Linked DNA regions of Homo sapiens: region 1 is linked to region 2. Evidence: fine-mapped QTL for protein levels in blood plasma. Region 2 holds a variant in brackets. A gene starts in the other region. All regions are shown on their reverse strands. Region 1 holds the start of GHRL (ghrelin and obestatin prepropeptide). Region 2 overlaps HNF1B (HNF1 homeobox B).

The links. PIP is the chance, under the fine-mapping model, that this variant and not a neighbour inherited with it causes the effect. The UK Biobank Pharma Proteomics Project read protein levels with antibody pairs (Olink). The fine-mapping took linkage between variants from a reference panel, not from the people measured, so its PIPs are less certain.
Region 1: GHRL starts here. The variant in region 2 is fine-mapped to the plasma level of the GHRL protein (UK Biobank, PIP above 0.99).

Annotation. Positions count from the first base shown.
Region 1 is chr3:10,291,581-10,294,491 of GRCh38, reverse strand. GHRL (ghrelin and obestatin prepropeptide) reads left to right here and starts at 1,545. Exons shown (of 6, transcript NM_016362.5): 1 at 1,545-1,650. It overlaps GHRLOS (ghrelin opposite strand/antisense RNA), which reads right to left. Exons shown (of 6, transcript NR_073568.1): 6 at 1,043-2,424. RefSeq lists enhancers at 1,353-1,647, 1,458-1,707, 1,718-1,787.
Region 2 is chr17:37,714,398-37,717,308 of GRCh38, reverse strand. All of the region lies in intron 4 of HNF1B (HNF1 homeobox B), which reads left to right. It overlaps LOC105371754 (a long non-coding RNA gene), which reads right to left. Exons shown (of 3, transcript XR_001752875.2): 1 at 2,682-2,911. Among named protein-coding and RNA genes, the nearest start is that of HNF1B, 29 kb to the left of the region's middle. The variant G/A (reference allele first, on the strand shown) is at 1,712.

The DNA.
Region 1 (2,911 bases), not on the chromosome of region 2:
GGGGATGAGAGGCAAGGTCAAGTTTTGAGGGGCCAGGACACAGCAAAGAAGAGGACACAAGGAAAGGGGAAGGAAATGGAGATGGTAACACGAGGGGAGGGTGGGATCGGTGCACAACAGACGTTTTCAGGATTAGGAACCTGGGTGTATTTTAAGGCAGAAAGCAGAAGCCACTGGAGGGGAACAGAAGACACGAGAGAGGCAAAGTGTTAGAGCTTTGGCCCCAAGATGGCCGGAGGCTAGGGAAGCCCCAGTGAGAGAGGCAGAGCTTGGCGAAGAGGAGGGATGAGAGAGCATGGCTAAGGTCAGGGAGGATTTAAGAGCGATGGCCGCCTATCTAGAATGAGCCGCATGTGGCTGCTGAGCATTTGAAACATGGCTAGTCCAAATTGAAATGCACTGTAAGAACACACACTGGATTTCAAAGACTACACATCTGTAATCCCAGCACTTTGGGAGGCAAAGTCAGGCAGATCACTTAAGCCAGGAGTTCAAGACCAGCCTAGGCAACATGTCAAGACTCTGTCTCTACAAAAAATACAAAAATTAACTGGGTGTGGTGGTGTGACCTGTAGTCCCAGCTACTTGGGAGCCTGAGGTGGGAGGATCATCTTAGTCCAGGGAGGTGGAGGCTGCAGTGAGCCATGATAGTGCCACTGCACTCCAGCCTGGGTGACAGAGCAAGAACCTGTCTCAAAAAAATATATATGTATATTCATTTAGACATATGCTGTTGCACACTTAGACTATAGTATGGTATCAGCATACGTTTTATATTTACTGGGAAACCAACAAAATTCGTGTGACTTGCTTCATTGTGGTCTGGGACCAAAGCTGTAATGCCTCCAAGGTATGCCTGTATATTTCTATTGCAAAATGTGAATCTCGAAATTATAAAAGCTACAACTAGGACAAAAAGCAACCCCACCAAATAGCCCTATATCAAAGAATAAAATCTCTTTCTAGAACCCCAGAATTTGCCTCTTTCAGACTGAAGTTTAGCCAAATCTATGAAAAAAGAGCTTGCTAAACCAACTAATTATCAGTACAAATAAAATTATAATGAAAAGTCTATGAAGATAATTTGTTCTCAGATGCCCTTCACATATAGCAATTAATTCACAAATGATGAGTCACTCATGTGCCTTCATGAAGGCAGGCCCTCAAGAGACCCGCAACAGAAAGGAAAGCCACCGACTGGAGAGAACCTGCTTCCTGAGCCCCACCAAGTTCCAAAAAGGAGAATGGGGCTTCGTCCTCACCCTCAAGGAGTTGCCAAACTGGGCTTGGTTATTATTCACACTTGAAAAGAATGAGGAAGGTCAGCCAGTCCCCTCCAGGTCGCTCGGGCTTCCTCCAAGCTCCTCTTGGTTCAAATTTGCTGTGTCCTCCAGCCGGCATCTCTCCTCTGTTCCGTAACTGACAGGGCAGCGAGGTAGCTTCCGGATGACTCCTCCCGCCATGGTTCTTCCGTCCATCAGCTCTTCCTTCCTCAACTCTGTGGTATGTGGCTAGGGGAGTTTCCAACTCCCAGGGGACATTTCAGTTCCCCAAAGATAACACAGCTTTGCACAGTGGATGTTTACTTGCTGGTGGTCTTATCTAAGATCAACATTGGCAGCTGTGCCCGGAGAGGCCTCCAGGGTCCAGGTAAGTGGAGGCTTCATGTCTCAGGAGGTACCTGGTCACCACAGTTAGGATTTTTCTGTTTGGGGATTTTTTTTTTTATGGGTTGGTGGCTCTGAAAAAGCTGCAAGTCTTCTCTGAGGACTACAGACCTCTCTCCACCCTCTCCACATTCAGCCTCTCTGGGCTCCAGGGCCAAAAGATGTCTACACTCAGGTGGCAGACAGGCCTGTGAAGACCTCCTGGTGACATGCTCATATGTTGCTGGGACTAAAGGTGGGATTTTAGCCACCACAGTGGGTTGGTGGTGAGATGTTTACCAACAGGAGGTACTTTGTCCCTCATGTCCACTTAAAGATTCAGTCCAACCCGGCCTGTGCTTCTGCTGTCCCAAGAGACTCTAGAAAGCTCCAATCCTCCCTGAGGTTGATCTTTTAAGTCAGGGTAGGTGGTCATTCGGCAATCAACTGCTCTACTGCCTCAATGTCCTCCTCACTGGACGTCCTGCCCCAATTCCATCCTGTTCAGCGCAGACTGATTTTCCTGGAACACAATGTTCATTATGGAGCCAGATGGCATATCAGAAAGAGCACTGTATTAGGAGTCAAGAGATCCATGGGGGAATCCCAGCATTGCCCCTGATGGCTGTATAGCTTTGGGGAAAGTGAGGCCCTCTTGGCATTCAGTTTTTCTTCCAGCGAAATAAAGGATTCAGCCTCCCAGAGCTTTAAAGTCTTTCCAACTCTTTCATTCATTCTATGGTCTCTCTCTCCTCAAGAATCCTCAGTGGCTGCCCTCCTGCAAAAAAAGCCCAAACTTCTTGGGCTAGCAGTTCCCAAGGCATCCATCACCTGGCCCCAAACCACCTTCTTATGTTTTTGTTATGACCCCATCGCCACCCTCCCCCAAGCCACCCAGCCTTCTCCATGCTGCCCTGATGTACTCTACCCACGCCTTCACCTCCCCTCTGCTTGCCGCAAAGCCCTCCCTCCAAAGCCCTGCCCCGAGTTCACCACAGGCCTCTTTCCTGGAGCCTTTGCTAACATCCCTGCCGCAAGCCCCAGCCTAAGGTGAGCTCCTCTCCTGAACTGCTAGAACTTCTCTGCAGACAACTCATTGGCCCTTAGGGGTTCCTGCCTGGGCACCCAGTTGGATGAAGCACTCCAGAAAGGAAGAAATTCCTGGGGCCGAGGGAAATGAGGCAGTGGCCTTGGCCTATGCTGGGAAGTCCTATGGGCCTGGTATGAAACCATTGTCATCTGCAGGGTGTTTCACAGGTTAGAAG
Region 2 (2,911 bases):
ACTTACGCTGGCAGAGGTCCACCAGCCAGAGGAACATTCCTGCATTATCAGGGATGGGAGGTTGGCTCTGAAATGTCAAGGGTGAAAGGCATCCCACCAGATTCTGGGTGCAGCTCATAGACTTCAGTGAAAGGAACCCCCAGGTTTCAGTGCCAAAAGCCACATCGTGGGCAAGCTGAGCCCCACATTGCCCAGGAATCCCCACTTTCCTCATTTCTTCTTACTAAAAGAACAATTCTGGTCCTGTTTTCTTTGTTGACATTGCTCTTCTGTTTACCCAGCAGAACCAGTGCATCTCTGACATTATTTTATTCATTCATTATTCTGGCTTGTGAAGAAGGAATATCTGTGTGCCCCTTTCACAGACAAAAATGCCAAGGCTCAAAAGTTAACTGACCCAGAATCATCAGAGAGTTATGGCAGAGAGAGAGAGAGAGAGAGAGAGAGAGAGAGAGAGAGAGAGAGATTGTTAAAGTGTCTAGAGGCTGGTGCCCAGTTGATCTCTGGAATCATGGAATTCCATGATTTTTTGAAGCTCTTAGAGCTGAATTAAATCGCCAGGGGCTCTATGAGCTGTAGCTCTAAGGCCCTGAAGCACAGGTTTCTGCAAAGTCTCTGGTGAATGGCACCCTGAGCAGCTCCTCTCTGGGGTCCTCCTGCAAGGCAGTCATGTTTGTCTTTGAACACACAGGCGCAGTAGGGTCTATATAACCTGACATATGCAGCCTAAAAATCACCAGAGTTTGCTAAGCCATGTGATAAGAACCACAGGGCTTACGGGAAAAACAGGATTAAAAACACAACACTTGAGGCCGGGCGCAGTGGCTCATGCCTTCAATCCCAGCACTTTGGGAGGCTGAGGCGGGCGGATCACTTGAGGTCAGGAGTTTGAGACCAGCCTGGCCAACACGGTGAAACTCTGTCTCTACCAAAAATACAAAAATTTAGCTGAGCGTGGTGGTGGGCGCCTGTAGTTCCAGCTACTCAGGAGGCTGAGGCAGGAGAATCACTTGAGCCCGGGAGGCGAAGGTTGCCGTGAGCCGAGATTACGCCACTGTACTCCAGACTAGGTGACAGAATGAGACTCTGTCTCTGAAATAAACTTTTTTAAAAAGCACAACACTTGAAAACTTCCTCAGCGACACATTTTGTTTGTTTTGAGATGGAGTCTTGTTCTGGTCACCCAGGCTGGAGTGCAGTGGCACGATCTCAGCTCACTGCAACCTCTGCCTCCCAGGTTCAAGCAATTCTCCTGCCTTAGCTTCCTGAGTAGTGGGGATTACACCACTATGCCTAGCTAATGCGCGTACCACCATACCCAGCTAATTTTTGTATGTTTAGTAGAGACAGGGTTTCACCATGTTGGCCAGGCTAGTCTCGAACTCCTGACCTCAAGTGATCCACCTGCCTCGGCCTCCCAAAGTGCTGGGATTACAGGCATGAGCCACCGTGCCCGGCCAACACATTTTTAAAAGATAAGAATCCAATAAAAAGATTACCAGAGTTTTATACCCGTTAAATAGTTAAGAAATATATCAATGCTATACAATAGTAAATATGGCAAGTTTGCCTAGGGAAGTGGGCATCAGAAGTGCTGCGGGTTGTGAGTTACTGTGAAGCAGTGGAGAAAGGGTTATCTGACATGGGAAGGAAAAGATGTGACTCCATATTGCATGGATGTGTCTTACCAGTGCACACAGTGGACCGAGGC[G/A]GCTGGTGGATGTTTGAGGTGCGCATATGTACACACAGGAGCATTGTTAGTATTCTCCTATGTGGTTCCATTCAGCTGGATGCAGGCTTCTGAATTCACTAAGTGTTTTCCAAATGTGAAATTGACATTACACTCAAATTATCCCCAATATGTCTATATAATTGGAACAGATTTACACTTTCACTACAATAAATACACAACTGACTGTATTTTCTACTTCTGCTAGACGTGATGCTCCTTGTCTGGGGCATGGGTGCTCAAAGCTGCTGGGGTTTCATTCCTTCAGTCAATAAATATGCACAGTACCAGGCAGTCTGCTAGGCTATAAGGATGCAACAAGTAAAGACTCATCTCTTTCTTTAAGAGGCAGAGAAAAGTAAACATATCATCAGCGTGCATGCAGGGTGACTGACTCCTGCCGTAAGTCTCTGTCTAGTGCATGTAAAATACAAAGGAAGGAGCAGCCATCTCCCAGGATGAATCAAGAAGAGCTTCACAGGGGGGCGACATGTGACACGAGATGCTTTCCAGGCAGAGGAAACAGCAAAGGTGCAGAGGCAGGAGATGGTCAGGCCATTTGAGAAGTGCATTAAGATTGTGGTGAGAGATAATGCAAATAAAACAGATGAATCACAAAGGCCCAGTTCTGCCAGTCTCAGGTGTTGGGGCTTTTCTGGAAAGCAGTGAGGAGCCATCAGATGTTTCCAAGCAGAGCAGAGGCATGGTGTGACTTTGTTTTAGAAAGATATCCCAGGCTGCAGCAGTGTGAAAGGACCCTAGAGACGGTGCTGGCACAGGAAGGCAGAGCAAGGATGCTGGCTTCTTGGAACCATGCACCTGTGCCATGCCTTTGGCACTTCTGACCAGTCATATTGGATAGAAACCGAATGATCTGCGTCTGTATCCAGGAATAGCCCAACACCCATGATGCTGATGCCTAGGAATAGAGGAAAGTAGATGATCTACTCACCAGGGCCTCAGGGATGTCTCAACTCCACCTTGGATGGCTTTTGCTGCTGGACACAATTGCTGTGGTTCATAGAGCCAACAATGGGGATGGGGCCAGTGAGTGGCTTGAGCTAGGAAGTAAGTAGAAGGTGAATGGCTACCATCTGCCACTGTCATTTCTCCTATGGGTCCTCTGTGGCTATTAACCTGGCATCTTTGGTTAATCAATATTAAACCAGAGCCCTTGTCATA